Homo sapiens: one gene and its partners. The protein of the gene in region 3 interacts with the protein of the main gene of each other region in a pairwise test. Each region holds a gene or a part of one and is shown on either strand. Other genes may lie near its edges. The genes, in order: ZRSR2, SREK1IP1, SDCBP2 and ARF4.

Evidence for each region.
Region 1: the proteins of SDCBP2 (region 3) and ZRSR2 interact in binary tests that used the Homo sapiens proteins (3 or more experiments, as listed by UniProt).
Region 2: the proteins of SDCBP2 (region 3) and SREK1IP1 interact in binary tests that used the Homo sapiens proteins (3 or more experiments, as listed by UniProt).
Region 4: the proteins of SDCBP2 (region 3) and ARF4 interact in binary tests that used the Homo sapiens proteins (3 or more experiments, as listed by UniProt).

The regions. Positions count from the first base shown.
Region 1 is NC_000023.11:15,793,105-15,801,460, forward strand, and holds part of ZRSR2 (U2 small nuclear ribonucleoprotein auxiliary factor 35 kDa subunit-related protein 2), read left to right. Parts: exon of another isoform or gene 1-2,945; coding exon of another isoform or gene 2,946-3,146; intron 3,147-6,767; coding exon 6,768-6,849; intron 6,850-8,356. UniProt on the Homo sapiens protein: Pre-mRNA-binding protein required for splicing of both U2- and U12-type introns. Selectively interacts with the 3'-splice site of U2- and U12-type pre-mRNAs and promotes different steps in U2 and U12 intron splicing.
Region 2 is NC_000005.10:64,716,928-64,724,327, reverse strand, and holds the end of SREK1IP1 (protein SREK1IP1), read left to right. Parts: 3' UTR 1-6,180; downstream 6,181-7,400. Other genes in the region: SHISAL2B (protein shisa-like-2B), read right to left, coding at 6,306-6,439. UniProt on the Homo sapiens protein: Possible splicing regulator involved in the control of cellular survival.
Region 3 is NC_000020.11:1,310,811-1,319,166, forward strand, and holds part of SDCBP2 (syntenin-2), read right to left. Parts: intron 7,609-8,356; coding exon 7,508-7,608; intron 2,864-7,507; exon of another isoform or gene 2,689-2,863; coding exon 2,530-2,688; intron 1,953-2,529; coding exon 1,777-1,952; intron 1,699-1,776; coding exon 1,527-1,698; intron 82-1,526; coding exon 1-81.
Region 4 is NC_000003.12:57,572,071-57,580,426, reverse strand, and holds part of ARF4 (ADP-ribosylation factor 4), read left to right. Parts: intron 1-3,039; coding exon 3,040-3,111; intron 3,112-4,753; coding exon 4,754-4,879; intron 4,880-8,128; coding exon 8,129-8,215; 3' UTR 8,216-8,356.

The DNA of each region.
Region 1 (8,356 bases), on a different chromosome or scaffold from region 3:
TGGAGTTATTGAGGCCCTTATTGTACTTCGTCTCTCCCCCCTTGAAATTTTCAGCTACTTTACTTTGTTCATTTAATCTGTTTTATTCTAAATATTATATATTCTAAATTTGTTTTAACTTCTTTCTCTTTTTCTTTTCCTGCACTAAATCCTATAACAGCTGGTATTTGTATTGTTTTGATTTTTTTTTTCCTTTTTACTTAGCAAAATGTGTTCAGAATGAGCCTCTGTGGAGAGTCAGGCGAGTCATGTCCCATGGTAGTTTAGCCCATTTTAATGGACTAAATCCAGGTCACTGGTCTGTCAAGATTATGTAACTAATGGCATATCCAAGACTAAGCACCTGTCTCTGCACTTCTGCTCCTACTTTTGCCCACTCCAACTCACAATTCTTTGCCTAGTGGTACTTCATGAATACTGTAGACTATGGAACACTCCTGGTTTTTTTTTTTGAGACAGAGTCTCACTCTCTCGCCCAGGCTGGAGTGCAATGGCACGATCTAGGCTCACTGTAACCTCTGCCTCCCAGGTTCAAGTGATTCTTCTGCCTCAGCCTCCTGAGTAGCTGGGATTACAGGTACCCACTATCATGCCCGGCTAATTCTTGTACTTTTGTAGAGATGGGGTTTCACCATGTTGGCCAGGCTGGTCTCAAACTCCTGATCTCAGGTGATCTGCCCACCTTGGCCTCCCAAAGTGCTGGGATTACAGGCGTGAGCCACTGCGCCCGGCCAGGAACACTGCTGTTTATTGTAGCACACGTTAGATGGGTAAACATTACCCAGAAGGCTAGAATGTTGAGTGTAACTATGAGAGTGCCTTGGCAAATGATTGGAGTGCCTTGGCAAATGATTTCTGGAATAGTGAGCTCTTAATTACAGATAGCTTCTTTGGCATCCATTCTACTTCAGATAACTGGAAACAAGCTACCTCGTCAGAAATTAAGATATTAAAAGCAAGTTGCAAAACTATAGCATGATTCTGTGTGTACAGTTACATGTACAGGTTGAGTATCCCTTATCTGAAATGCTTGCGTTGTATTTACCAGTTCAGCATCCCAAATCCAAAGATCCAAAATTCGAAATGCTCCAATGAGCATTTCCTTTGAGCATTGTTGTCACTCAAAATATTTCTCATTTTTGGATTTGGGGTGCTCAACCTGTATAATACCATTGGATATACATTTGATCCTTGAACAATGTGGGAGTTAGGGGACTCTGACCGCCCCCCGCCCCTCCCCACAGTGGAAAATTTGCATATAACTTTTCACTCCCCCAAAACTTACTATTAAGTGCCTGCTGTTGACTCTAAGCCTTACCAATAACATAAACAGTTGATTAACACATACTTTGTATGTTATATGTATTATATACCATATTCTTATAATAAAGTAAGCTAGAGAAAAGAATGTTACTAAGAAAATCCCGAGGAGGAGAAAATATATTTGCCCTTCATTAAATGGAAGTGGTTCATCATAAAGGTCTTCATTCTCCTTGTCTTAATGTTGAGTAGGCCGAGGAGGAAGAGGATGATTTGGTCTTGCTCTCTTGGGTGGCAGAGGTGGAAGAGGTGGAGGAGGTAGAAGGGAAGGCAAGAGGGTAGACGGCACTTGGTGTAACTTTGCAGAAATACATTATAATTTCTGTCTGACATTTTTGCTTTTTCATTTCTCTAAAAATGTTTCTATACAGTACCAATTCTTCCACCACTTGCTTTAGTTTAAATGCATTAGTTTTCAGTATAGAAGGGTCCATAAAAGAAGTCAAAAGCAGTCTTGAATAATTGGCCCTTCTGCCAGATTGTCTAGTGTCAATTTGTTTTCTGGCACTGCTTCACCTCAGTTTTCTTCCTCATCACCTTGCACTGGTTTGGAAGGACTCATCCCCATCAAATTGGCTTTTGTTAACTACTCTGGTGTGTCTGTTAGCTCTTGAATTTCTTCAAGATATCTTGAGACCCTTCACCCCGACCCCCCTGCACTTTTCCCCCCCCCCCATATTTACAATCTCTTTCACGATTTCCTTGATTGGCTCTGTCTTAAGTCCAATGATGCCATGCACAATATCTGGACACATTTTTTTCTCCAGCAGGACTTTGTTTTGGGCTTGATGATTTTCATGGCTTTTTCTATAACAACAATAGCATCTTCAATGGTATAATCTTTACACACTTTCTTGATACTCTCTGTATTAGGGTTCTCTCCCATAGCATTGACAATCCTTTCCGTAGAGTACCACGTGTAATGAGCTTTAGAGGTTCTTACGACCCCCTGGTCTAGAGGCTGAATTAGAAACATTGTGTTTGGGGGCAAGTAGACCACTTTGACACCTTCAGTGTTGAACTCATGGGGTTCTGGGTGGCCAGGGGCATTGTCCAATATTAAAATAATTTTAAAATCCAGTTCCTTATTGGCAAGGTACTTCCTGACTTCAGGGACAAAGCATCAGTGGAACCAATTCAGAAAAAAGGATTTCCATTGTCCAGGCCTTCTAGTTGTACAACCAAAAGACAGGCAGCTGGTGCTGATCTTTTCCCTTCAAGGATTGGGGGTGGGGGTTAGCAGCTTTATAGATAAGGGCAGTTCTGATCATAAACCCCACTACGTTTTCATGAAACAGTAGAGTTAGCCTGTCTCTTTTTGTTTTCAATCCTGCTGCTTGCTTCTCTTCCTACTAAATGTCCTTTGTGGTGTTTTTCTAGAATAGGATACTTTCATCTGCATTAAAAACCTGTTCAGGCCAGGCGCAGTGGCTCACGCCTGGAGTCCTAGCACTTTGGGAGGCCAAGGCGGGTGGATCACGAGGTCGGGACTTCGAGGGCAGCCTGGCCAACATGGTGAAACCCTGTCTCTGCTAAAAATACAAAAAGTAGCTGGGCGTCCTATTCACGCAGATATCCTTTCTCCTCAGTGATTTTCTTTTTTGTTTTTTGTTTTTTTTTTTGAGATGGAGTCTTGCTCTGTCGCCCAGGCTGGAGTGCAGTGGCATGAACTCGGCTCACTGCAACCTCCGCCTCCCGGGTTGAAGCAATTCTCCTGCCTCAGCCTCCAGAGTAGTTGGGATTACAGACACGCACCACCGCGCCCGGCCATCATGACTTTTCTCTGCTTCTTGAGAGCACTTCCAGCATCGCTAGTCGCACTTTGTGTGAGTCTCATGATGTTATTCAAGGTTTACCATTTTGTAGTAAACACAGTGAAAAATACGCCAGAGATCACTTCTTACTGCCATACACAATTTACTGAAGAGATGAACTGCTCATGCAGAGATGAGTAGTGTCACAAGGTGTTTTAAGTGAATACTCATAGTATTTGAGCTCACTGCAATAGCAGCAGGAGGTGGCTATGAAATTATTGCAGTAGTGCAGTGTGTACTACAGTTAATTTTTTTCTTCCTTCTGTACCTCATTGGATGCGTTTTTTTCCTTGTTTTGTACTACAGTTAATTTCATGCAGTTATGATTTAATACTGCATATTTATGTTTGTTTACATTTTTCTCAACTGTGAATGTGCCATATATGGTCTATAAATATAAGTTTTGATAAATTTTAACTTTAAAAAAAGTTGTCAATGATTATGTTGTAGCACAACTTTTATAGTAATATTCAAGGAAAAATGTTTGAGACCGAACTTCTCTGTCTTAGAATGGAATGAAGTCAGAGATCATTTTGTTTCAAATCGTTTTTTTTTTTTTTTTTTTTTTTTTTTGAGACAGAGTCTCGCTCTGTCGCCCAGGCTAGGGTGCAGTGGTGCAATTTCGGCTCACTGCAACCTCTGCTTCCCAGTTTCAAGCAATTCTCCTGCCTCAGCTTCCTGAGTAGCTGGGATTACAGGCGTGCACCACCACACCTGGCTAATTTTTTTATTTTTAGTAGAGATGGGGTTTCGCCATGTTGGCCAGGCTGGTCTCGATCTCCTGACCTCAAGTAATCCGTCCACCTCGGCCTCCGAAAGTGCTAGGATTACAGGCATGAGCCACCGCTCCCTGGCCTGTTTCAAATGCTTTAAGCAAGGAAACAATAAAACACTTAACTTATATTGTAACAGTATCTGTATATGTGCTGCTCAAGCCAGCACAATATTGCTTAACAGTATCTGCATTAACTTTTTTTTTTTTTTTTTTTGAGACGGTGTTTTGCTCTTGTTTCCCAGGCTGGAGTGCAGTGGCGCGATCTTGACTCACTGCAACCTCCACCTCCCGGGTTCAAGCAATTCTCCTCCCTCAGCCTCCCGAGTAGCTGGGATTACGGGGGGCTGCCACCACGCCCGGCTAATTTTTGTATTTTTAGTAGAGATGGGGTTCACCATGTTGGCCAGGCTGGTCTCGAACTCCTGACCTCAGGTGATCCGCCCGCCTTGGCCTCCCAAAGTGCTGGGATTCCAGGCATGAGCCACCACGCCCAGCTCTGCATTAACGTTTTATAATAGATTTATATTTATGGTAGCAAATGATAAAATAGACTAGTATGTACATATATTTTATGCATTCATGACATACCTTTTTCTTAATTTTTTTCAGTGTTTCTAGGCCATGCCACTTACCTATTTTTTTTTTCAAATTGTTGCAAATATCCCCTAAATGTTCCAGTGTGTTTACTGAAAAAAAATCTGTATTTAAATAGACCAAGGTGGTTCAAACCTGTGTTGTTCAAGGGTCAGCTGTATTGTATGTATATGTATTGCATATGTCCGATTGTACACGTGGGGAAAATGCTGTACCCAGAACTGTTAGCAATCACTTCTGTGGAGTATATGAGCTTGGTTTCGAGGTGATGGGGAGTTGAGTGAGTCAGTCAACAGGTGTTTGTGAGTGTCAGCTGTGTCTATGCCCTGTCTAATCTATGGCATACCTCTGCAAGTAGTCAGGCCATATCCTCTGTGCCAGGTTCTCTGGCGCTTTAAGTACATTAGATCATTTAATTATCTGAACAATTAGATACTATTTTATATGATTGAGAACTTATTCTACATTTGTTGCCCATTTTAATTCCAGCTGCTGAAATAATAAAGTTTACTTACTTAAGAAAAGTAAATTATTGTAATTATCTAAGACTGGATGAGCCTTCAGTTAGAACTGTACTCAACACATGTGACAAACAGACTCTTTTTTCTTTAAGCCTGACATCTGTAACATTTCTTTAAGATTATTTCAGTCTTCCATTTCTCTTCCACTTTCACTGATTTTTTTCCCAAATTTTGAATGGGAGAGGATGTAAATGTCTATTCTATTAAAAGTTGTTTTTTCATGTTTTTATTTGGGAAATGTTCTAATCTACAGAAAGTTGAAAAAAAGAGCACAATAAATATCCATGAACCCTTCAGCAAGATTTGCCAGTTGTTAAAGTTTGGCCTTTCTTTCTTTTTCTCTATTTAAAGAGATACATACATAGAACATTTTTTCTGAACCTTTTGGATGGCAGTTGCAGATAGCAGCACCTCACCCCTAAATTCTTCAGCTTGCAACTCCTAAGAATAAGGACATTCTCCCGCAGAACCACAATACCAAACTTGCACCTGAGTACATGAGCAAGTAATTCAATGGTATCATATACAGGCCATATTTAAACTTCCCCAAACCAGGATTGATTGTTTTGAAAAACTCAAGCCAGTTATCTTGTGGAATGCCCTGTATTCTGGATTGTTCTGTCTTCTCATGATTAACTTCAGGTAACAACACTCTTTAGAACAAAGGATTACAGAGCAGATGTTGTAAACTTCTTATTGCATACATCATGAGACCTTTCACATCAGGTTGTTGCACTCCCGGTGATGCTAACTGTGGTTAAGGTGTTACCCACCCAGGGCCGGACATGCTGGCTCATGCCTGTAATCCCAGCACTTTGGGAGGCCGAGGCAGGCGGATCACGAGGTCAGGAGATTGAGACCATCCTGGCCAATGTGGTGAAACCCCGTCTCCACTAAAAATACAAAAATTAGCTGGGCATGGTGGCGCGCGCCTGTAGTCCCAGCTACTTGGGAAGCTGAGGCAGGAGAATCGCTTGAACCCAGGAGGCGGAGGTTGCAGTGAGCCAAGATCGCGCCATTGCACTCCAGCCTGGCGACAGAGCAAGACTCCCGTCTCAAAAAAAAAAAAAAAAAGTGTCCAGATCGCTCCATTGGAAAGCATTGCATTTTTTCTTTTCTAATTAGTCCTCATGTCTGGGGTGATATGTTGAGATAGTGTGAATATACTCTTCCTAGCAAGCTTTCATTCGATGTTTTTAATGTCTTTGTCTAAATTTTTACAGTGGGGGTTGCAAAAGTGATGATTTTTCTACTTAAGTTTTTCTCCATTTTTTAGTTACCATTCTTCTGTGAAGATGGATGTTCCCTTCCACACCCCCACCACCTTTTTTTTTTTTTTTTTTGAGATGGAGTTTCACTCTTGTCGCCCAGGCTGTAGTGCAATGGCACGATCTTGGCTCACTGAAACCTCCACCTCCTGGGTTCAAGTGATTCTCCTGCCTCAGCTTCCCGAGTAGCTGGGATTACAGGTGCCTGCCACCATGCCAAGCTAATTTCCTTTTTAAGTATAATTGTGGAACCATTGATTAATTTTTAAATGTAATGTGCTATCTGCCACCCCTATTGTCCTTTTTGATGCTTGTGTTGTACCAAAGAAGGTTGATCAGAGACCTTTTTGTTAGAAAGTTTAAGAAAAAGATTTTTACCATAATTTTATACATTAAAGATTACATGTATTTTTTTCCTGAATTTTTGACCAAGGATTTGCAGCACTCAGTTTAATAAAACATTTAAATTCCCTAGGACTCTCACAGAAGGAGGAAGAGGAGGACACTTTTATTGAAGAACAACAACTAGAAGAAGAGAAGCTATTGGAAAGAGAGAGGTCAGTGCTAATTGAAACACTTAAAGTGAATGAAGTTATTTTATTGGAATATTATCAACCTTTACTAACCAGTACCAGTCTTCTGTATAAAATCTTGTACCAAATAGGTCTTATAAAATATCCTGTATAAAGTATTTAAATCTGTAGTTGATGGGCTAAAACTAGATGTTATTTTTTTTAAAAATGGAAGTACTTTTCTTCTGTTTTTGCTAATTTATAATTTTTTTTCTTTCTTTTTTTTTTTTTTTTTTTTAGACGGAGTCTCGCTCTGTTGCCAGGCTGGAGTGCAGTGGCATGATCTCAGCTCACTGCAATCTCCGCCTCCCGGGTTCAAGCGATTCTCCTGCCTCAGCCTTCCGAGTAGCTGGGACAACAGGTGTGCACCACCACACCCAGCTAATTTTTGTATTTTTAGTAGAGACAGGGTTTCACCATGTCGGCCAGGGTGGTCTTGATCTCTTGTGATCAAGTGATCCGCCTGCCTCAGCCTCCCAAAGTGCTGGGATTATAGGCATGAGCCACTGCGCCTGACCTGTAATTGTTTTTGAAAACAGAAAAAAAACAAAAAAAATTAACAAATGTAAAAAGGGAAAAGACTTTAATAATTGCAACACACCCAAAGATAGCCACTGTTAAGAAAGAGAAAAAGAAAGTGTAAATGTACTTTACGTGTGTCTTTCTATAATGGCATGATATTTATACATATTTTTCTATAAATTGCTTTCTTGCTAAATATATAGTGCATTTATTTCAGTACTGATGCAGGGATCTAATTCAGCCATTTCAGTGGCAATACAGTACCCACTGTACAGATGTAGCATAATTTATTTGCTATTCATAGTTTATTCATTTATAATTTATAGTTCTCTACTGATGGACTTTCAGGTTATATTGGTTTTTCACTCATATGTAAAAAGTTGCAGTAAGCATCCATGCTTATATATCCTTGGTAATTGTCCAGTTATTTCCTTAAGAACATGACTAAAAATGAGATTGTTGGAATCAAATCATAAGTCCATGTAAAATGTAGATGGCCAGGTAGAAAGGGCTTCCTGGTTTGCAGTTTGCAGCCCTTCTGGCAGTGAATGTAGGGGCCCATCTCCCCATACCTTCACTCATACTAGGCATTATCAGTTTATAAAACTATAATGAAACTGTTTCAAATGCACATTTCTGAATTAGGTAGAGTATCTTTTTATATGTTTTATTACCTATTTGTAGATTGCTCAAGTCTCACACCTTTCTCTTTTGGGATACATGTTTTTTTAAAATTTGTTTTTGTTTTGTTTTGTTTGAGACGGACTCTCGTTCTGTCACCAGGCTGGAGTGCAGTGGTGTGATCTCCGCTCACCGCAACCTCCACCTCCCAGGTTCACACGATTCTCCTGCCTCAGCCTCCCGAGTAGCCGGGATTACAGGCACGCACCGCCACACCCAGTTAATTTTTTTTTGTACTTTTAGTAGAGATGGGGTTTCACCATGTTGGCCAGGATGGTCTCGATCTCTT
Region 2 (7,400 bases), on a different chromosome or scaffold from region 3:
CCTTCCTTGGAATTTGCTATATATTATGCTTTGCAATAAATCACAGCCTTTTCCATATAGACATTTTTCGTATTTGGGACCATTATCCCTCTGGCAATATATTTTTAATGTGCTGTAACTGTAAAGTATTAAATCAGTCTTGTTACTTGATAGCCATGCCCCAAGTATAGCTATTTGTGTATACTAAACACATCATTTTTGGTATTTGTGTCTCTGTGTGTTTGGCTAGTGTTACTACTTCATAAGTTCATTGTAAAATGGCTTTACTGCCATCAACATGGGTCATCTACCTAGCAGTTAATGAGTATTGCTGGATCAGGTGTCCACCTTCCAATGATGAAGCAAGGTAAGGGGTAATGTTTTGCTCTTGACACAGAGAAATTTAATAGCTTTATGTACTAAAATATAATATCTTTTAAAGATAGTGAAATTCTTCAGTTTTTTAAATCTCTAGGGATTTTTTTTCAATGTTGTAGAAGATGCAGCTGCTTAATGGTCTTGACTAGGACTTTTTAAATGAATGGTGTCTGCAGGTAGATGATCATGAAAATATCTCTAACAAAGTTTTACTCTTCTATGAAATGCAGAATTTCTAGTACCTGCCTCCTTTGTTTTTGTAATAATTAAAATACTTCTTGTATAAAGAGATTAGTTCAGCCTGTTAGTAAGTCTGCAGAGATGATGCTGAGTTGGTTGTGATTTTTAGAATAGACTCCTGGGTTGTTTTACAAATGTGCCATATTGGCATGTCTTACAGTGATACCTCAAACACAGAAATTTTTATTTAGGAAGATAGCTAAATCTTTATTAGAACTGATTTTTATTGTATTCAGTATAAATTTTATGAAGCTTGTTTCTATGAGTACTGTGGAAAATTTTATAAATGTGAGCATATATATTTATTTTGTCTGACATAATTTGTAGTTTTAAAGCAAGTTTCACACTGAACTTAACGTTTTCATAAATGACCAGTTTGGGATGTTTCTCTCTTTTACTTTAGTGGCAAACTCAAGAGTAAAAAGTGTCAAAAAAAGAATTGAGAATTTTATTCTGTACTTTTTAAAATTTAAGAGCCAGGGAGTTGCATCATGAAAGCCTTTGTATAATAATGGAAATTTTATATGGGTAAGCATTTTCAAACACATATTAGTAGATACGTTTTTTAAATTTCTATTTTCACATTGATCAGTGTTACTTTGCTTAATACTTAGGTAGCCCTTATGTCCACTAAAGTAAATGCTTATGTTGTAGAAGCATCGAACATCAACCAATGTCATGGCACAGCACCAAAGATTGCAAATACCTCACTATGGTGCGCTTAGAAATTTTCAAATTGATAACCTATAGATACGGCTGCAGGTGAATTCATGATAGTGAAATCAGCTAAGTATACTTAACCTCACAGGCTAGAAAGGTTTACTGATTCTTGTTTCACCTGGCACCCAATGTGGATACCCTCAGTAAGACTCAGGGAGCCTTATAACTCCTCTTAACATATGCTTACCCATGCTTAAATTCTAGGGAAGCTGTATCCACAGCCCTCTGCATTGCAGCCATGAGAGCTCTCACGCTTTCAACCCTTCCATAACCTAATTTAGTCATTTGGGCCTCTCAAAAGGAAATGCTTTTGTTTAAATAGGTCAGTCAGTTACTGGGAGAAAAAATACAGAGCCAGTAGGTTTTTAGGGATTTGTTTTGCCTTTGCTGCTAGTTTTTTGAAAATATTCTTCGATTATCAAGATTTTAAAAATCGGTTTTTAATATAAAGCTTTTTTAAAAACGAGGCTGGCACAAGTGCAGTGGTGTTTCTTTACTCCCACTGCTTGACTTGACTAGCCTTGAAAAAATAACAGTAAAATAAAATATTAAAAAATAATTAGAAAATGCTACAAAGGCAATGACCTTATTCCATTGAGTAAGATAGTTAAAAATGATAGTAATTGTAGTGAAATAGTTAATTACTTGTAAGTTTTATTACTGTTAATTGTAGAGATTATAAATTGGCTCATTAGGTTTCTGAATGGTGACACAATAATGACTGAGAAGAGCAAAAGTCAGTCCTCGTTAACTAATGTAGTATGCAAATTAAAATATTTTAATGATCAGTAATTTTCCCCCCAGAAATGATGTTGGCATTTCTAAGTAAATTTCCCATAATTTTAGCATAGTTTATGAAATTGAATAAAAATTTATTTTCACTGAAGTAATTTTCTTCTAATATGATATTATTATTGAGATTGGATGCAAATCTCATGAATATGTTTTAGAAGAAAATTAATGAAATTCCCTCCCAGGCAGTATGTACCAGAAGGAAAACTGAATTTAGCAGTAAAACAGTCCTGGTCATTCTAACTACCTGTATGATCTTGAACAAAGTCACTTAGTTTCCCTGGGCCTTGGTGTCTTTCGTCTATAAAATATTGTACCAGATTATCTCTGAAATCACTTCAAGGTTTAATATATATAATTATCAATATTTTAAAATTCAAGCAATATTCACTTTAGAAATTATTATAACATTCTATAATAGTAAAGGTTGAATTTATTAATATAATAAACACGTTCAACTTCTTCAAGCAGATAATTGATATTTGGTTCATATTCTTACAACCTAATGCATGTCATTTTCACCAAATGCAGGCAGAATTTATATTTAGGTTTGCATCTGGAACTAGATTATCTGGCACTTTATGGCCATTATTTTTGGGTTGATGGACCTTCTCACCACACAATTTCCCCCTTTTTTTTTTTTGCATATCATATGTTGGTTGATATTTCTCAGAGGTATCCCTATTTCTTCATACTTAATATACATCTCCATTTACATCTTTGACTCTCTGAGGTCAAAACAACAATAAATGAGAAGTAAAACAACTATATGTGTTTGTATTTACAACTGTATCTAAAATTATATAACCCTAGTTTACCTTCAGAGTAAACTAGGCTGAAGAGTTGTTAATAATGTTGATAAAAATGCCATTGAATCCTTTCTTCAACAAATATTTATTGAGTACCTAACGTGGCAAACGCTGTGCTAAGTACTGGGGATACAGAGATAAGTAAGACACATTTGCCTCCCTGAAGGACTTCACAGTGTAGTTGGTAGGAGAAACACCAGAGCATACACCGTTATATAATTAGTGCAGTAATTGACATGAACATGAGTTTATAGAAACTCGGGGTTACCTAAAGTAGTCTGGATAAATTAGAAGAGGCTACCTAGAGAAAGTAGTGACTGAATTGCAATTTGATTAAGGATAAGAATGAGGGTTATGGCAGTTCCTGACAGAGTGGGTACTGTGAACAAACACCAGAGGTAGAACAAGCTGTGTTATGTGTTTGTCAAGAATTACAAGCAATCTGGTGTTGCTGGTGTATCATAGGCGAGGCAGGAAGTGGTAAGAATTGAGACTACCATTTTAAGTTCTTAGGAACAGGAGGAAGGAGTCGTGTGTTCCGTGTTTGGGAGCTTGAACTGTAATGTGTAAGCAATGAGACACCATTAAAGAGTTTCAAGGGGGGCCGGGCACAGTGGCTCACGCCTGTAATCCCAGCACTTTGGGAGGCTGAGGCGGGCGGATCACCTGAGGTCAGGAGTTCAAGACCAGCCTGGCCAACTTGGCGAAACCCTGTCTCTACTAAAAATAGAAAAATTAGCCGGACGTGGTGACAGGCACCTGTATTCCCAGCTACTCTGGAGTCTGGGGCAGGAGAATCGCTCAAACCCAGGAGGTGGAAGTTGCAGTAAGCTGAGATCACACCACTGTACTCCAGCCTGGGCGACAGAGCGAGACTCTATCTCAAAAAAAAAAAAAGATTTTAAGGAAGGAAATGACTTTTATTAGGGTTTGGTTTTATCAATTTCATAATCCGATTAATCCCACCATTTTTAAAAGATGAAATTGCTTTCATTAGAAGGCTACATAAAATATAATTTGATTATTTTAGGCTCTATTATTAGACTCACATTTCTTTCTACAGTCTCATTATTATTTCCAAAAATTACACAGTAACCTAAATCATCTAAAAACACATAAAGCTACTGTATTCTTTATTAGATCCATCCCCAGAGTTATATGTACATGTACATACTTTGAGATGTGTTTTGTTCTTAATTGTATTTTAGGTTATTTTTGACTGACTTAAATTCTATCACTATTTTAATATTTGTTAGGTCCGAATAAACCATTTAGAATATTTTTCAGTGTACAAAATGTGCTGTAATTTAATAAGGCCCCTTGCTTTTAAAATTTGGCTTAACCTGTGAAGCACAACTGCTTCAGAGTTACAGAGAAACATACCAGTTGGTCCACTGGATGAGCCCTGTGGTTCTACCTCAGGTAACCTAGTGATAAGCTAGCTCAGCAGGGAGTGCTTCAAGGACTCCAGCTGATCCTAGTGCTGAGACCAAAACTTCCTGGACATTGGGTGCCCAAGAACAGTAGGTTTCTTATACCAGTGTGACAATAATCCCAGTTGCGAAGGCCAGTCTTCTGATCTCAGTATCTCCTCCCAACTCCTCTAAAAATAGGTAGAGTGGCAGAGAATTGGGGTGCCTCTTCTATAGCACAACCCATGATGCATCCAGTCATGCCTGACCCCACTATGCCTTTCCCACAAATTGGGAGGAGTTGGGGCAGTGAGCATTTTGCTAGCTCTGTCTGTTTCTTGCTTCTTGTGCCATTTATAGTCCTTGGCCATGAGCAACAAAAGTAGAATGGTGCCAGTGCCTTAACTAAATTTTTCTCAACCTAGATTTTCACCTGAGACAATATGGTAATATTATTAAATTACTGTAAAGATAGCAAATTTTCTGGGATACTTTAAAATCAAAGTTGTATCAAAGATCAAGAAGCACCCATAAAAGCTTTATAAACTTTCACAAAAAATAAGTGAAAATTCTTTGTTTTTATGGCCGTGTAAAATGTCATTTTTATAATGGAAATGTCTTAATTTTCAAACTTAACATATACTTTAAGCAATTTTAGTATTTAAACCTTTGCAAAATTGTATTTTTGAATGTGAAGTTCAACTTTGGCAGTAGGTTGTTGCAATAGTGATCTGGCACTATGGTGCCAGTATAGCCACATAGGGTTATTTAAATTAATTAAATAAATGAAAAATTTTATTTTTTCAGTTGCATTAGCCACATCTTAAGTGTTCAGTAGCCACATGTGACTGGTGGCTACCATATTAGTGCAGATATAGAAAGAACATTTCCATCATCACAGAAACTTCTCTTAATTCTGGTCTAGAAGATAACCTTAGTACTTGGTAGAAATTTTGACAGGCTAATGACGAAAAGTTTGTAACCCTGAGCTTTGCATGCCCAAGAAAAATAAGGTATTCTTTTTTATATATCAGACCAGAGAAGCTGTATTCAGCACATTTTGAAATGCTAGTTTTTGGCTATGGCCATACCACCCTAAATGTGCCAGATCTTGTCTGAAATGCTAGTTTCTGACTACAAAAACTACAGGACATAGTAGATATGCTCAGTAGAGCTGCTTAAAATAATTCCCTTTTTTTTTCTGTTGAATTCTGTTACAAAACCAGGTCTGTGTTATAATAGAAAACACACTTATGAATAAAAATCTTTAAAAATTATAATTTGCAGAAATTAGTTTTATTTCTAGATTTCTAGGTGGTATTAATGTGATAGCATTAGGTGGGACCAGAGAACTCATTTGTTTTGTAGCTTTCATTATACAGATTATTTAGGAAATATATCAGCAAAGGATTTTTTGTTATGCTTATCTCTTGAAACAAAATATTTATTGTACAGATTATACATTGTGATTTTTTTGTTACTGAGTATATTGTTTGTGCCCAGAAAAATCTAAAAAGATGTGGGTTGACTTCTAAGAGATTTAAGAACAAGTCACCTCTAGTTTTTAAGACAGTTCCCTTGATATTTACCTATCCAGTACCATCTCATAAGAATAACTGCCTGTAAGTATCAGAAAGTTGAGAAATGCTGGTAATGTGACATAAACTTCTCACTGTTCTTCACTGAGATAGGACTGCTTATCTTGTTATTGATAAATTATTTAATTTCTCCTGAATAATTAGCATAATCTCATGTGATACAGAAACATCTTAATTAGCAAATAAATTTATACAAAGGAAAACCAATAAAACCTTAATGTGCGTTTAATAAAGTAACTGAATGATCAAAAATGCAGCTGTGTCTTGCTTTGTGAGTGACGAATTTTTGAAAAGCAATATTACAAACCGTTTCAAGTGCACGCTTTATTTTTATTGTCCCATCTCTCCAGTAAGCATTTAAAACACAGAATTTTTAGTTAATAAGCAATGTGGATTTGTGTTGCATCCATTGTTTTTTCTTGAATTATATCATCAGCTTCATAGTATGTTTCATTTGTTGCATTTGATGCTGCATTTGAATTGAGGGCTTTGGTTTTTCCATTTGACTTGCCTGCAGATACACAAAACAAAATAATTATTTGAAATTATGACATCGTTTCACTTATAAAAATTTGCACTTAAAAATAATTTTTGTAGCAATATTGAAAATATGATGTCCTGAAAATGCTATGTGTATGAGTGAGAATTGAGTTATTTTGAAGTGGTTTTTGAGTATTTCCTTATGAAAGTCAAATAAGGGAAATAATTCAGTAATAAAAAAATTTATTTCCATGCTTACCTTTTTTCCTCCATGCTTCCATGAGGAAAATAACTACACATCTGATAAGAAGGTAACAATTTCTGAGTGACTTAACAAAAGTGTGACTGTCCCTCTCCTATGCATAAACTACACTAAAGCCAATCATAGTAACTTGCCCAACCTTAAGGCTTTGCCATTATAACTGATTTAGATGTGGTTTATTAAAAGGACACAGTAGTGCCACAATCCCATTCACTCACTCCATATAAATATGAGTCCAAAATGAGCAAAGGTGAAGGAATATGGATCTTTGCTGATCAGAAGTTAGTCTAAACAAACATAGCAAAGAAATGGATTATTCAATGAACAGTGTTAGGAAAAGTTGAATGATTGTAGAAATAATTAATGTATCATTTCACCAATAGAAAATAACATAAATACGTAAAGAACAGTGGAAGAAATCACAGACATTACTAATGACCTCAGTGTTGCTAAATGCACAGTCCAGTTCATTCTCATCTTCTTTGATTTCTTAGCAGCAGTTGATCCAGTTATTTCCTTGGCTTCCAGGACACCATTCTTTTTTACTCCCTGCTACTTCACCATTACTAATTACCTCCATGTTGCTAAATCCACAGTCCAGTGGCCAAAAACCTCTGGTCCTTGATGCCTCTCTTTTCTCTCACCCTACATGCAATCCATCAGAAATCCTTGTTGACTATACTTTTAAAATACATTCAGAATCAGACCACTTCTCACCATCTTCACTGCT
Region 3 (8,356 bases):
GTGCTCGTAGATCACACTGGGGATGATGGTCAGGGTGACAACGTTCCCAGCCGTGGCCAGAATCTCCATGATCTTTTTGTCCTAGGGAGGAGGCAAGTAAGCGATCACCCTAAGGATTGGGGACCAGGGGCAACTCTACAGGCCCCTCTGTGGAGGGATCAGCATGGCCACTGCTAGAGGACACCACTGATGGCTGACTGCAGGGCAGGGCTGCCTCGGACCCCGAGCCTGTCAGATGAGGGTCCCAGCAGACTCCCAGGTAAGGTCTTGCTTGAGTGAGAACATGGGTCTCCCACCTGAGGATCTCCTTGGTCAAATGAGCATGCCTCTTCCCACCCTCAGCTTGAAGGCCAGCGGTGTGAGCCTGACGCGTAACAGGGCCTCATCAATGCGATTCTCCTCCCCCTTCCAAGGGCTCCCAGAGACTCACCAAGCCCACAGTCACATTTGGGTTCTGGCCTCAAAGCATAAATGCCTCCCCATCCTGTGGGAGGTACTAGGCGTACCCATCCACCCTCTGGCTCCTGCTGCCTCCAGGGCCATAAGGATCCTCCTCCTCTTACATCCTCTTACATTTGCTTGTTTGATAAAAAGAGATGGGCCTGCAGACACCACTTAGATCATGGGAAGAACAAGAAATTAAAAGTCTCTACGCAAAGCGTGCCAGGTGGTCCAAACACTAACGTTATGGCCATAGAAGAGCCTCTGGCCCTCACTCAGAGCCTATTGACCTTTACATTACACATGTATGTTATCTGGTTATGTGTTTTCTTGGTTGTTCGAAAATAAATGTGAGAAGATGTGCTAGACAGGACTAGTGATGGCCACAGGTGGAAATAAACTTTGAAAAGACAAACGATCTCAAGAAGTGTGGCTGGCTGGGACAAACCCAGTTCTGAAGAACCTCACGACCCCATGGATTTCTGAATAACGATTTTCTAAAACATTCCTAAACTACTGAACATGATCCACTATACCAAAAAAAGTGCCATACAGAGCAAGGAGGTGTCCATGCAGCCAGCAATAGCTATTATGTATTAAGCACCTGCTATGTGCCTGGCACTGTGCTCAGAGCTCTAGGTACACTGTCTTTTTTTTTTTTTTTTGGAGACAGGGTCTCTCTCTGTTGCCCAGGCTGGAGTGCAGTGGCATGATCATAGCTCACTGCATCCTTGACCTCCCAGGCTCAATTAGTCCTCCCACCTCAGCCTCCTGAGTAGCTAGGACTACAGGTGTGCACCACCACGCTTGGCTAATTTTTTAGTTTTTTTTGTGGAAAGAGGGTTTCACATTGCCCAGGCTGGTCTCGTGCTCCTGGACTTAGTGATCCTCCTGCTTTGGCCTCTCAAAGCACTGGGATTACAGACGTGAGTCACCGCACCCAGCCCTACGAACACCGTCTTACTGAACCCTCACAGCAACCTTAGGAAGAGGATGCTGAGGCTCAGGTGGGGTAAGCAAGCTGCCCAAAGACCTGAGCCCTCCCACCACCCGGCAGTCCCTCCCTGGTGCGGCCACCAGCCTACCTTCAGCCCGATAACATTCTGCCCGTCCACCTCACACACGTAGTGGTTGGTGAGGAGCCCGTTGCGGGCCGCAGAACTCCCTTTGACCAGAGAGACAATCTTCCCCTTCTTGATCACGAAGCCGACGTGGCCCATGCTGTCCTTGTGCATGGTGACAGTCCGCTGGAACGGCCTGGCAGGAGGGACAGTGAGCTGTCCTGGGGACATGGCTGGGGTGAGACGGAGAGGCTGCCCGGGCCTGGCTACTCACCTGTCCCGAACCACCACGACAATCTTATCGCCTGATGCCTTCTTCACCACCTGATGGGCTTTGTGCGAGCTCCACCCAGCACAGTCACGCCCGTCAATCTGCAGGAGCTGGTCCCCAAAGCGCAGCCCCACAAGGGATGCAGGGGTGTTGGCCTGGACCAACTGCACAAAGAGCCCCTGGGGGAGGCAGGGCCCCAGAGTCAGTGTCCCTGGCCCACCCTAGGCACAGATCCCTCTTCCAACCTGTTGTTTTCCTCCTGATACTCCAGGAACCTACAGGGTGCCAGGGACACAGCTCTGCATGGCAGGCACCAAGGTTACCCCATTTACCGGGGAGGAAACACTCTAGGCCTCATAGTTAGGAAGCAGGTGAGTCAGGATTTCAACCCTGGCCTGGGGCTGCACTCCGAAACACTCCACTGTACCATTCACAAAGGCATGGGCTTCCCTGGCGTCGGCTGTCTACACCGTCGCCTGGAAGCTAGATGCCCTGGGCAGCGAAGGGCAGGTGGGGAAGGGAGGCTCCTCCGAGCGACGGAAGCCCACGGAGAGGCCAGTGGAGGGCCCTGCGCAACCCAGCACCAGCCCCGCCCGGGTCTCGGGGAGGAGGGACTGGGGGCAAGAGCCTGGCCGCTGGGGTTAGGAGGCCCGCTCTGCACCTTCCTTACTGTGGACGGGCCCTCTGAGCTCTGAGGCCTGGCGGGAGAGCGCGTGCAGCTCGAGCTCCTCTTCCCACCCAGCCCCCGCGCCCTACCTGGTCGACCTTCCGCAGCCTCAGCCCGGTCTTGCCGCGCTCGTCCTTGCACAGGTGGATCTCGCGCACCCCGGGCTTGATCTCAGCTCGCCGCACGCCCAGGCTGTACCCGGTTACCGGTGCCACCATCTGGCCGGGCCCGGGGCCCGAGACCGCTGTCTGCAGACACCAGGGGGCAGGGGGTCAGCCCGGCCCGTGGGGACCCTGTGCCTCAGGAGACACTGGGGTGGGGGTAGGGATGGGGAAAGGAGGATGGAGCCGTCCCCGGGTCCCCCCACGTCCCCAGTCCACGCTTCTCCCCTAGGGGCGAGAGGAGACGTGGCTCCACGCGGCCACTAGGGGGCGTCAAAGTCCATGCCCTTAAAAAGCCAGGAAAACGGGGAGGGAAGGGGCGAGGATACAGGAAGAGGCCCTTCATTTCCCAAGGGAAACTGGCATCAGGAAAAGCCTCCTTTAAAACCCACTTAAAATAGAAAAAGTCACAGTAAATAGTGAGCAACAGGGGATAAAAGGACTGGATTTTTGTCTTGAGAAAAATGTAAAAATATACAAATTCATGATGCAGAAAAAGGCAAGGAACTTCACTCTCCCAACACTATTAAAGATGGTACTGGAAGACCTAGCCAGCACAGTAGGCAAGAAAAGAGGGGGAGTCACACAGATCAGAAGAGAAGAAATAAAACGGTTCCTATTTATAGATGGCACGATGGTCTACTAGAAAATCCCAAAGAATCTACAAATAAACTCCTAGACCAAATAAAAGAGTTTAGCAAGGTCCTGGGATACAAAATTAACACACAAGATTCAATTGTACTTCTGTATACTAACAACGAACACATGTAAACTGAAATTTAAAATACAACACCAGGCTGGGCGTGGTGGCTCATGCCTGTAGTCCCAGCACTTTGGGAGGCCGAGGAAGATGGATCACTTGAGCCCAGGAGTTCAAGACTAGCCTGGGCAACTGTTGAAACCTCCTCTCTACTAAAAATACAAAAATTGGCTGGGCTGGTGGCAAGCACCTGTAGTCCCTGCTACTCAGGTGGCTGAGGCAGGAGAATTACATGAACCCAGGAGGTGGAGGTTGCAGTGAGCCAAGACTGAGCCACTGCTCAGTCCAGCCTAGGTGACAGAGCAAGACTCCACCTCAAAAAAAAAAAAAAAAAAAAAAAGGAAAGGAAAGGAAAGGAAAAGAAAAGAAAGGAAAAGAAAAGAAAAGGAATACAATACAATACCACTTACAATCACTCAAAAAAAAAAAAAAAAAAAGAGGCCGAGCTCAGTGGCTCACTCCTGTAATCCCAGCATTTTGGGAGACCAAGGCCGGAGGACCACTTGAGGCCAGGAGTTCAAGACCAGCCTGGGCAACAAAGCAAGACCCCCATCTCTGTTAAAAACAAAAACGAAGCAAAATAAAACCTAAAAACAAGAACAACAAAAAGAAATACGTGTAAATCTAACAAAACACATACAGGAACCGTATGCTGAAAACAACAAAATACTGATAAAAGATATCAAAGAAGACCTAAATAAATGGAAGATTCTCTGTATTCACGTGTTGAAAGAATTAGTAAAGCTGTCAATTGCCACCAAATTGATATACAGATATAACACCATTTCTATCAAAATCTCTACAAGATGTTTTGCAGATCCAGGGAAGGTTAGTCTAAACTTTATATGAAAAGACAAAGGAATTTAGAATAGCTAAAACAATTCTGACAAAAAGAATAGCGAGAGGAATCACCACCAAATTTCAAGACTTATTATATATAGCTACAATAATCAAGACAGTGTGGTACTGGTGAAGGGATAGACAAGTATCAGTGGAACAAAGTAGAAAATCCAGAAATAGCCTCAAATGAGTAAAGTCAACTGCTTTTTGCAAGAGTGCTTTCAACAAATGGTGTTGGCTGGGCGCAGTGGCTCATGCCTGTAATCTCAGCACTTTGGGAGGACAACACAGGGAGATCAGCTGAGGTCAGGAGTTCAAGACCAGCCTGGGCAACAGGGTGAAACCTCATCTCTACAAAAATACAAAAATTAGCCAGGTGTGCTGGAACGTGCCTGTGGTCCCAGATACGCAGGAGGCTGAGATGGGAGGATCGCTTGAGCCCAGGAGGCGGAGGTTGCAGTGAGCCAAGATCATGTCACTGCACTCCAGCCTGGGTGACAGAGTGAGACCCCATCTCAAAACAAACAAACAAACAAAACAACAAAAAAAGCAAATGGTGCAACCATGGCAAAAATATGAACTTTGACTGAAACCTAACTCCTTACAAAAAAATTAACCCAAATTCAATCATAAACGTAAACGCAAAACATAAAACTATAACCATTTTAGAAGAATACGAAGGAGAAAATCTTTCGGACTTAGGGCTAGGTAAATATTTCTTTACAAAGTATGAGCCACAAAAGAAAAAAAAATCAATAAACTGGACCTCATCAAAATTCAGAACTGTTAAGCTACAGACTGAGAGAAAACATAAACCACACATCTGACAAAGGACTTTAGAATACACAAAGAACTCCCAAAACACTACAGACAAGCCCCAGCCTGGCCAACATAGCAAGACCTTGTCTCTGCAAAAAATAAAAATAACAATAATAAAAGAAATTAGCTGGGCATGGTGGTGTGCACCTGTGGTCCCAGCTACTCGGGAGGCTGAGGTGGGTGGATCACCTGACCCGGGAGGTGGAGGCTGCAGTGACCCGTGATCGCACCACTGCACTGCAGCCTGGACAATAGAGCAAGACCCTGTCTCAAAAAACAAGAAGAAGAAAACAAGCCATTTAGAAAATGAGTAAAATATATGAAGAAACATTTTACCGGAAAGAATATACAGATGGTAATAAGCACATGGAAAGATGGTCCACATCATCAGGTGCCAGGGAAATGCAAATTAAGACCATGATGAGCCATCATTATACCTATCATAGTGGCTAAAATATAAAATAGTAATAATACCAAATTCTGGTGAAGACATGAAGAAACTGGAGCACTCATGTATTGCTCACGGCAAAATAAAATGGTATAGCCACTCCAGGAACTAGTTTGGCAGTTTCTTTTTGAGACAGGGTCTCACTCTGTCACCCAGGCTGGAGTGCAGTGCTGTGATCTTGGCTCACTGCAGCTTCCACCTCCTGGGCTCAAGCAATCCTCCTGCCTCAGCCTCCTGAGTAGCTGGGGCTACAGGCACAAGCCACCATACCTGGCTAATTTTTGTATTTTTTGTAGAGATAGGATTTCACCATGCTGCCCAGGCTGGTCTCGAACTTCTGGGCTCAAGTGATCCACCTGTCTCAGCTTCCCAAAGTACTGGGATTACAGGCATGCACCACCACACCTGGTGGCAGTTTCTTTAAAAAACTTAAACATACATTTGTCATACAGCCTAGCAATTGCACTTTGGGCATTTATCCTAGAGAAATGAAAACGTATGTCTATACAAAAACCTGTATAAGAATAACTTTGTTTGTAACCACCAAAAACTGGGAACAACTTAGCTATTCTTCAACAGGTTAAACAAACCCTGGTACATTCACATCATGGAATACTACTCAGCAGTAAGAAGGAATGAACTATTATTGACACACACAACAGCCTGGATGGATCTAGAGGGTATTGTGCTGAGTGAAAAAAGCCAACCTCAAATGGTCACATACTGTACGATTCCACTTATGTAACATTCTGAAATGACAAAATTATAGAGATGGAAAACAGAGGGCCGGATGCCAGGGGTTAGGGAGGGTGGCAAGCAGGCAGGCATAACTATACAGAAGCAGCCTGGGAGGGAGGTGGTTGTGGTGATGAACTAGTTCTGTATGGATTGCAGTACTGGTTACATGAATCTACACACTGATGAAATGACATAGAACTAGAGACACACTGTACTCGCGTAAGACTCCTGGTTTTGATAGTGTACTATAGCTATGGAAAACATAAGCATTGAGGAAACTGGGTGAAGGGTACTAACAACTTCTCTGTACTCACTTTGCATCTTCCTGGGAATCTACTGTTTAACAATAAAAAGTTAAAAGACATACAAAATTTTAAATTATAAAAATGTATTCATCATCTTATATTTTATCAAAATTACGGTTGAATGCATTTATGTCTTAATTATAGGAACAAAGAGTGATGACAGTGGGGCTGCCTACAGAAGGACCTTCTTTGCTTCATGTCTGCCTTTCACAGCACGACCATGAAGGGGGCCACTGTGGAGAAACACCCCAGGGTGCCATCAGTTCTTCTCAGGGTCCCACATGGCCTCATCCTTGTGGATTTCCTCCTGTCAGATCCTCGTTTTGGCAGTGGCTTTGTATGTGTCTGTGACAGTTCTCTATCATCATATCCATGAACTTCATGAAATTCCCCAGCCTTAGACAACTTTGCAGTTTGTACTTTCAGTTTCATCGGCTCAGGACGAGCCTGGCAGGAAGACTGACAGGTGGGACGCAGGGATGCTAGAGCTAACTGGCAAGGGGCTTAGGCGGGGACTGGTTCTACAGGTAAATATGTTTTCAGTGGCATATATTTCTGTGATGGTGTCTTTTGCTCCCCGAAGCCATGGAAAGCAGGAATTGAGCCTTGTTGTTTAATTTGGGGACCAGAGTTGGGTGACGAGCTCCTGCCCTCTCGGCTCTGTTTATCCATGCAGGCAGCCCTGCTTTTGATGTCCCCAGGTTCACGCTGGGCTTAATGACCTCCCTTCTCATCCAGCTCAGGCCCAAGGTCAAAGGGCAAGCCCTGGTTCTCCATCCCCAAGGCTTGTGGGAAGATCTGAAACCATGAAAGCCCACAGTGGTTTTCGTGAAGCCTCAAAATGAACGGTGCCATCAAGAAACAGAGCCAGCAGAGTGCTGGGGAGAGGGGAGGTCCGAGCACAGAGAGAAAGAAGGTCTGTTGAAATGGCAAGACCAGGAAAAAGGGAGGATTGGGAGGTTCTGCGCCCGCAGCAGGCAGAAGCCAAATACATACACTGTCACCCTCTGGAATCTGAAGCAGGCTCTCCTGGACTTCTTGGCTGGAGAGGGAAAGACCCATATAATTTTCCAGTTCTGCCAAGTTTGGGTACAAAACTGATAGGGAAAGAAGGAAGAATAAATGTGTCATTAGAGGACATGTGCTTCCCTATGCCTGCCTGGCTCCCCTGTGGCTGCTCATTTTTATTAAGAAATGGAGCCTGGGAATGGTATTTATTTCCAAGACTGTGGGGTATCCCCAGGAACACTCACTGATGAGCGCTCCTCAGAGGGCCCAGGTGCAGGGTAGGACACCGAGTCCTCATGCACCACTTTGCTATTCAACTCCACTGACTTTATTTGACACCCAGAAACCTCTGCATCCCTCAGCGAATGGTTCCCACCAGGACTGGCAGGGTCCTAATCCCTTCTTATAAGGATTTGTGTCCTTATAAGAAGAGACAACAGAGGGCTCATGCATGCGCTCTCATGCTGTATCTCTCTCGTGTTCTCGTTTTCTCTCTCTCTTTTAAGCAAGTACACTGAGGAAAGGCCATGTAAGGACTCAGCCAGAGGGTGGCCATCTGCAAGCCAGGAAGGGAGGCCTCACCAGAAACTGAATTGGCCAGAACCTTGATCTTGGGCTTCCAGCCTCCAGAGCTGTGGGAATATACATTTCTGCTGTTGAAGTCATCCAGCCTATGGTATTTTGTTATGGAAGCCTAAGCTGAATAAGGCAAGTGGGGTTCTGGCCCCTTCTCTCTTTGAGCCGCTATCTGCCGTCCACTTCTTCCCCACCTGCCCCCACCCCAGGCCAGCCATAGTTCCAGCAAGGAAGTCTGACAAGTGTGGTATTTCATTCCCG
Region 4 (8,356 bases), on a different chromosome or scaffold from region 3:
TTGCCTCTTTTTTGAAAAAAAGAAGAAACAAAAAAATGGAAGGTTTGGTTCTAAAAAGGAGTAGCTTTTGAAATATGGAAAGGAGGAGACATATTTGCTAAATAAATGCCCATGATAAGCCAAGAACAATGATCTTTTATATCTCTGTGATTGCATTTAATCTTTAACAAGCTTATGAAGTTAGTATTTTTATTTTATTTAGACGAGGCATAGTCAAGGATTAGATAATATATATAACAAGTAGTATAAGATTTGAATTTGAGTCTGTCTTCCCACCACACTATATTGGCTCCCAAAGCATCAAACATTATTTTTTGTTTTTGAGATGGGGTCTCACTCTGTTACCCAGGCTAGAGTGCAGTGGCATGATCATGGCTCACTGTAGCTTCAGTCAACCTCCTGGGCTCATGTGATCCTCCCTTCTCAGCTTCCTAAGTAGCTAGGACTATAGACATGTGCCACCATGCCCTACTAAAATTTTAATTTTTTTCGTAGAGACAGGGTCTTACTCTGCCCAGGGTGATCTTGAACTCCTGACTTCATGTGATCCTCCCACCCCAGCCTCCCAAAGTGGTGGGATTAGAGGTGCCATGCCAGCCAAAAGTTTTCTCAAAGGATAGGATATTTAAAGTGATGGTTTTCCAGGTGGTATAGATGCAGTGTAAAATAAAATTTAAAAATTAAGTTATGGTTTCCAACAGAGATAAAGGAAATGGACTTACAATTTGCTAAAACAAAGGAAATTGTCATTTAATGGATGTAAAATAAGTGTTAGATGCTCCTGGAGAGCCCAGTACTGTGGTAATCCTGAGAGGTAAACAGAAAATGATGTAGGATGGGGCTGGGCGCGGTGGCTCACACCTGTAATCCCAGCACTTTGGGAGGCCAAAGCAGGCAGATCACCTGAGGTCAGGAGTTCAAGACTAACCTGGCCAACATAGTAAAATCTCATCTCTACTAAAAATACAAAAATTAGCCAGGTGTAATGGTGGGCGCCTGTAATCTCAGCTACTCAGGAGGCTGAGGCAGGAGAATTATTTGAAACTGGGAGGAGGGGTTTGCAGTGAGCTGAGATGGCACCACTGCACTCCAGCCTGGGTGAAAAAAAAGATATAGTATAGTCCTTTGCCCTTAGTGGATGTAATCTAGTTCCTTTTTTTTTTTTTTTTTTTTGAGATGTAGTTTGCTCTTGTCGCCCAGGCTGGAGTGCAATGGCGCCATCTCGGCTCACTGCAGCCTCCGCCTGCCAAGTAGCTGGGATTACAGGTGTGCCACCATGCCCGGCTAATTTTTGTATTTTTAGTAGAGATGGGGTTTCACCAGGCTGATCTCGAACTCCTGATCTCAGGTGATCCACCTGCCTCGGCCTCCCAGAATGCTGGGATTACAGGCGAAAGCCACCTCAACCAGCCTCGTTACTTACATAAATCAGTAGTGCAAGACAATCTGTTATAAGTGACATGATCAAAATTGATACTTTAGGAGTCAAGGTTTATCTTTTTTTCTTTTTTATTATTTTTATTTTTGCCCCCCCCCTTTTCTAGCTGAAAATTCTATACTTTCCCATTTGAAAGTTCTTAGAAAAACAGTTCAACTAGTTGCTTCCTAATTCCTTCCATTTATTTTGTAGTATAGAATTCTAATAATGGGCCAGGTGCCATGGCTCATGCCTGTAATCCCAACACTTTGGGAGGCCAAGATGGGTGGATCACTTGAGTCCAGGAGTTCGAGACCACATGGGCAACGTGGTGAAACCCCATCTCTACAAAAAATAGAAAAATTAGCTAGGTGTGGTGGCACGCACCTGTAGTCCCAGCTACTTGGGAGGCTGAGGCGGGAGGATCATTTGAGCCCAGGGGGTCAAGGCTGCAGTGAGCCAAGATTGTGCTACTGTGCTCCTAGGCAACAGAGTTGAGACCCTGTCTGAGAAAAGAAGCTAATATTTGTATCTCTAAGAATTGATAACTACCTTCCTTTTTTTAAAGAATGTCTTACTCGATCAGGTAAATCTTGAATTTTTCTTTCTTTTTTTTTTTAAGAGATAGGGTTTTGACATATTGTCCTGGCTGGTCTCAAACTGCTGGGCTCCAGTGATCCTCCTGCCTTGGCTTCCCATAGTGCTGGGATTACAGGAGTGAGCCACTGCGCCCAGTCTTGGATTTTTCTTGCTATCATTTTCTTAAGATGTCTTCCTGATCTAGAGTTGGCAGGCAGCATTCTGAAGCAAGTTAATTTTTTCCTTCCATGATGAAGCAGATAAAAACTGTAGTGTACACACTCGCGCTATCCCACCCCCCTTTTATTACTCTGTACATGCCTTTGAGTCAGTAAGCTAATTCAGTTAGTAAATTCATGGGGTTTTTTTGTTTGTTTTTTGAGATAGGGTCTCGCTCTGCCACCCAGGCTGCAGTGCAGTGGTGCGATTTCAGCTCCCTGCAACCTCCGTCTCGGGCTCGTGATTCCTCCCACCTCATCTCCCAAGTAGCTGGGACTAAAGGCATGCACCACCACACCTGGCTAATTTTTGTATTTTTTTGTAGAGATGACCTTTCGCCATGTTGCCCAGGCTGGTCTCAAACTCCTGAGTTCAAGCAATTTCAGGCCTGATCGTTTGCCTCAGCCTCCCAAAGTGCTGGGATTACAGGATGAGCCACCATGCCTGGCCAAATTCACGATTCTTTAGGATCCTTGATTTGTTATTTTTCTTTTTGTTCCTACTTTGTGGCTATTTTGGTACCTGCACTTAAATGTGAGAGTGCAGAGGGAAGGGGAAAAATAGATACAATTTATTCTTAGGGTAGTTGAGAAAAGTAATTAATTGGTGAAGAATAAAAATTTTTTAGATTTGAAATAGCACTAATAAATTAAACTTACAAATAGTTCTCAAATCAGCTTTTAGCATTACAGCCTTAAGTTCTTACTTTTAAAGAGACATTTTCTTCCTAATGTCTAACCATTGGTACCATTTTGCTGCCTACACTGTTTCATATAGAGAGTGTCGTTTAACTGTTAAAATTTACTGAAACAATTTTTCCCCAGGGTCTTATTTTTGTGGTAGATAGCAACGATCGTGAAAGAATTCAGGAAGTAGCAGATGAGCTGCAGAAAATGGTAAGAAATATACTTTAAATTCATCATTTTCAAGGTGTGCTTTTCTGGATTAAACTGGTGGTGGTTTAGTACATTTTGACTATGATTAGATTACACAAATGGATTGGGGGGGCTAGAAATAAACTTAAGAAACTATATTATCCACAGGTTCTTAATAATGTACTTCAAAATCTCTTATAGAGCGTTTTAAAAAACACATGGAAGAGTAGCTACTTCAGTAAGTTGGGAGGAAGGCAGAGCAGTGTTGTTTTTTTTTTTTTTAGAATGCCTCATGGGTAATCTTGATGCCTATCTCTGGCTGAGGATATCTGATTTAGCTCAGTCCCTTACTTTACAGATATCAAATCTATAGTGCTGTAGTGGTTTTGACCCTAGGAATCTTGGTTCAGATGTTTTGTTCCCAAGGTCATCGGTTCCATTTTCTCTATGCTGTGCCAATAATTACTTCAGAAATGTTTTTTAATAGTAACCATTTAAGGATAAGGAATTCCTTCTGAAAGTAGAGACAAATGTTTGGTTCACAGTGGCATTTTGCAGCCTTCCCATAGATTGGATTAATGTTTTCATGTGTTCATGTTGTTAAATGTACTAAATGGAGGAAGACTGCTGAGAATCCTTGTCATGATTTTAAACTTGTAGCCATAAAATATTTACTGAAATGAAATCTTAATTCTTGTTCATTCCTCCTAAGATTAGAGGGCAGTTTGTAAAACCATTGTGCCAGTATATGTGTAACTAAGTCATTGTTGGATTTTTGCCTGAGTCAAATGTCACCAGCTTTCCCTCTTCAAAAAAAAAAAAAAAAAAAAAAGCTTGGTTGAGACATACTTCACACACTATAAATGTCATCCTTTTTAAATGTGCATATCAATGGCTTTTAGCATACATAGTTGTACAACCATCATCACAATCTAATACTAGAAAATTTTCATCACCCTCAAAGAAATCTTGGACCATTAGCAGTCATTCCCATTTCCTTCCTCTCGTACACCACACTCCCAGCCTCTGACAGCCACTAATTTGTCTTTATACAGTCACCTATTCTGGACATTCATATAAATGAAAACATACAATGTGTTCTTTTGTGACTGATTTTTTCACTTAGCATAATTTTTCAGGGTTCGTCTATATTGCATCATGCATCAGTACAACTTCTGTTCTTGGTACTTTTTTTTTGTATATTTCATGATACTGCCAACACCCAGATAATTGTGTTATTGTCCCACTGTTGTTGGAAAGGATAGAAGTCCGAAAAGAATCATCATCTATCTAAGTACTTCTGCTACTAAGTACCATAAGAACCTGCCATAAACATTTTATTCCCACATGTATTTCTTGCCCTTATCAGTCCTGACAATGGGTAATCATGAAGGCTGAATGATGAGTGATTTGCTTTAATTTAATGGGGTGTAGGATGATTGACTTGGAAAACAGTTCTGTCTTATTTGAAGGCATATGATTGTTTGCTCTGGATTTAAAAACTGAAGGATATGAGACTTCAGTTGTAAGAGTGAACTTTGTGTCGAGAAATTAGGTTAATGTTTAATAATGTATTTAATGCTGAGTAAAGTATATATAGGAAGACATTTTCAAAAATTGGATTCCGGTTGGTAGTTGTTAATGCCTTACCTTTTATTTCCAGCTTCTGGTAGATGAATTGAGAGATGCAGTGCTGCTACTTTTTGCAAACAAACAGGATTTGCCAAATGCTATGGCCATCAGTGAAATGACAGATAAACTAGGGCTTCAGTCTCTTCGTAACAGAACAGTAAGTATTTGGAGGTTGATATTAACCTCTTGACTATTAAGACTTACTAGGATAGTTGTGTAAGCTAATATTCAGTTTAAACATTTATTATCTCCTTTGGACAAATAATGAGCACATCATTTATTTAAAAATATGGTAATAAACTTTAAATACCTTATTTGATTTTTGTAAAGAAACGGAAAACTACTGTAGAATAGGTCTAAAGATTATTGATAGTTTCTTTTTTCTTTTTTTTTTTTTTTGAAGGGAGAGGTGGAAGGAATGGAAAGAAGATTATTGATAGTCTTAATTTTAATTTTGTATCTTTTAAGTAACCCTACAGCAAATATTTTGAAATCTGGCTTTCTTATTAAGGGTCCAGTAATGTTTGTTTGCTTGTTTTAAAAGTGGAGATGGGGGGCTGGGTGCGGTGGCTCATGCCTGTAATCCCAACACTTTGGGAGGCCTAGGTGAGCAGATCATCTGAGGTCGGGAGTTTGAGACCAGCCGGACCAACCAGGGAGAAACCCTGTCTCTACTAAAAATACAAAATTAGCCAGGTGTGGTTGCGCATGCCTGTAATCCCAGCTACTCAGGAAGGCTGAGGCAGGAGAATCACTTGAACCCAGGAGGTGGAGGTTGCGGTGAGTCGCGATCGCGCCACTGCACTCCAGCCTGGGCAACAAGAGCGAAACTCGGTCTCAAAAAAAAAGTGGAGATGGGGGGTCTCGCTTTGTTGCTAGGCTGGTCTTGAACTCCTGGACTCAAGCAATCCTCTCACTATCTCAGCCTACCAAAGCGCTGGGATTCCAGCCATGGTGCCCAGCCTTGTTTGCTTGTTAACATAACAGTTTATGGAGGAGACCAGGTACCACGGCTCACACCCGTAATCCCAATACTTTGGGAACCCAAGGCAGGAGGATTGCTTGAGGCCAGGAGTTCCAAACCAGCCCGGGCAACAAAGTGAAACCCTATCTCTACAAAAATAAAAATTAGCTGGGTGTGGTGGCATGTGCCTTTAGTCCCAGCTACTTGGGAGGCTGAGGTGGGAGGACTGTTTGAACCCAGAAGTTGGAGGCTGCAGAGAGCTGTGATTGTGCCCATTGCACCCCAGCCTGGGTGACAGAGCAAGACTGTTTCTTTAAAAAAAAAAAAAAAAATTTGTACTTCTCTAAAATTGCTTATCATTGATCAGTGATTCAGTGATGGAGATAAATTATCAGAAACTTAGTGTCATAGGCTTTTTACAGTAGTTTTGCATTAACCTGTAAATAAGGGAAATACTGTGGCTGTGGTAAAAAATGAAACAAACAACAAAGAACCTATTGCAGGCCGGGTGCAGTGGCTCACGCCTGTAATCCCAGCACTTTAGGAGGCTGAGGTGGGTGGATCATGAGGTCAGGAATTCAAGACCAACATGGCCAAGATGATGAAACCCCATCTCTACTAAAAACTACAAAAAAATTAGGTGCAGTGGCAGGCATCTGCAAGCCCAGCTACTCTGGAGGCTGAGGCAGGAGAATCACTTGAACCCAGGCAGCAGAGGTTGCAGTGAGCCGAGATCACGCCACTGCACTCCAGCCTGGGTGACAGAGCGAGACTCCGTCTCAAAACAAACAAACAAACAAAAAAAAACAACCTATTGCCTGTTTGAGATATCTCAGGCTGATTTGAAGAACATAAACTGGGCCGGGTGTGGTGGCTCACACCTGTAATCCCAGCACTTTGGGAGGCGAAGGTGGGCGGATCACTTGAGACCAGGAGTTCGAGACCAGCCTGGGCAACATGGTAAAACTCTGTCTCTACTAAAATTACAAAAATTAGCTGGTCGTGGTGGTGCATGTGTGTAACCCCAGCTACTTGGGAGGCTGAAGGCACGAGAATCTCTTGAGCCTGTGAGGCGGAGGTTGTAGTGAGCCGAGATCACGCCACTGCACTCCAGTCTGGGCAAGAGTGAGTACTCTGCCTCAAAACAATCAGTCGATCAATCAATAAATAAGCAAGCAACACTAACTGTAAATGATACAAGTTTTCCATGCTGTGAAGGTATGAATTTGAGCCTTTCCCCAGCCTCCTAGGTTACTGAGATTTGGTATTCAAATAATTGGCAACATGGTATACCTGCAGTGGCCTTGCAACATTAAACTGGTCAAAAAAATTAATAAAAGTAAACTATGCCTTAAATGTAAATTGTTTTCTAGGTTTTTTTTGATACTTTCACACAGTTACTAGAGATAAGATTCGTTGCCATTTAAAAGCAAGAACGTTTTGGAATGCATGAGACTAAAGATGGTGAAATTGTCTGAAAAGCTTGCCCTTAAAATATCAACAAACCCTACTCTTTCTTTCTTTCTTTTTTTTTTTTTTGAGATGGAGTCTTGCTCTGTCACCCAGGCTGGAGTGCTGTGGCACGATCTCGGCTCACTGCAAGCTCTGCCTTCTGGGTTCATGCCATTCTCCTGCCTCAGCCTCCTGAGTAGCTGGGACTACAGGCGCCCACCACCACGCCCGGCTAATTTTTTGTATTTTTAGTAGAGACAGGGTTTCACTGCGTTAGCCAGGAAGGTCTCGATCTCCTGACCTCATGATCCATCCGCCTCAGCCTCCCAAAGTGCTGGGATTACAGGTGTGAGCCACCACGCCCGGCCTAACAAACCCTACTCTTTCAAAAATTTGCCTCTTCTACTTTGAGTTTAGTTTTATGGGAAACGAGAGTTATAAAAACCAGATGGGTAGTTTATTAGTTACTAATTTCCCCATGATTTCTTTTTTCAGATTAAGTGGTAGAAAGTTTACTAAAAGGGAACCAAAAACCAGCACTGAAAAGAAAGCTGAATGAGGGGGGAAAATCTTGTCTAAATATAATGAATAGGTAGAAGTAGCTTGATTGATTGAGACGGAGTCTCACTCTGTCGCCCAGGCTGGAGTGCAGTGGCACAGCCTCGGCTCACTGCAACCTCCAGAATAGGTAGAAGTGGCTTTATTTTTAAAAAATAATTTAATCTAAAAAAGTAGAGACAAAGTCTCACCATGTTACCCAGGCTGGTCTCGAACTACTAAGCTCAAGTGATCCTCCCATCTCCGCCTCCCAAAGTGCTGGGATTTATAGGTGTGAGCCACCACGCCCAGCCAGAAGTAGCTTTAAATATGGGAGAGTTTTGTGAGATGCAAGAGGTGTGAAAAGACTCTTAAGTTTGATTAAGAAAGTTTAAACACTGGTGTTATATATTAACTTTGTTAATCAAGTATTTTCTTGTCTTCTCTTTACAGTGGTATGTTCAAGCCACTTGTGCAACACAAGGAACTGGTCTGTATGAAGGACTTGACTGGCTGTCAAATGAGCTTTCAAAACGTTAAATGAAATTGGATATCTAACCAAGGACATGTTTGATAAAATTGGTCTAGGCTTGTTACAACAAAATTAGTTTGTATCTTGGTTATTAAACAGTATCTGGGACTGGTTTGGGCAGAATATTAAACTTATTTTGTTGCCAATTA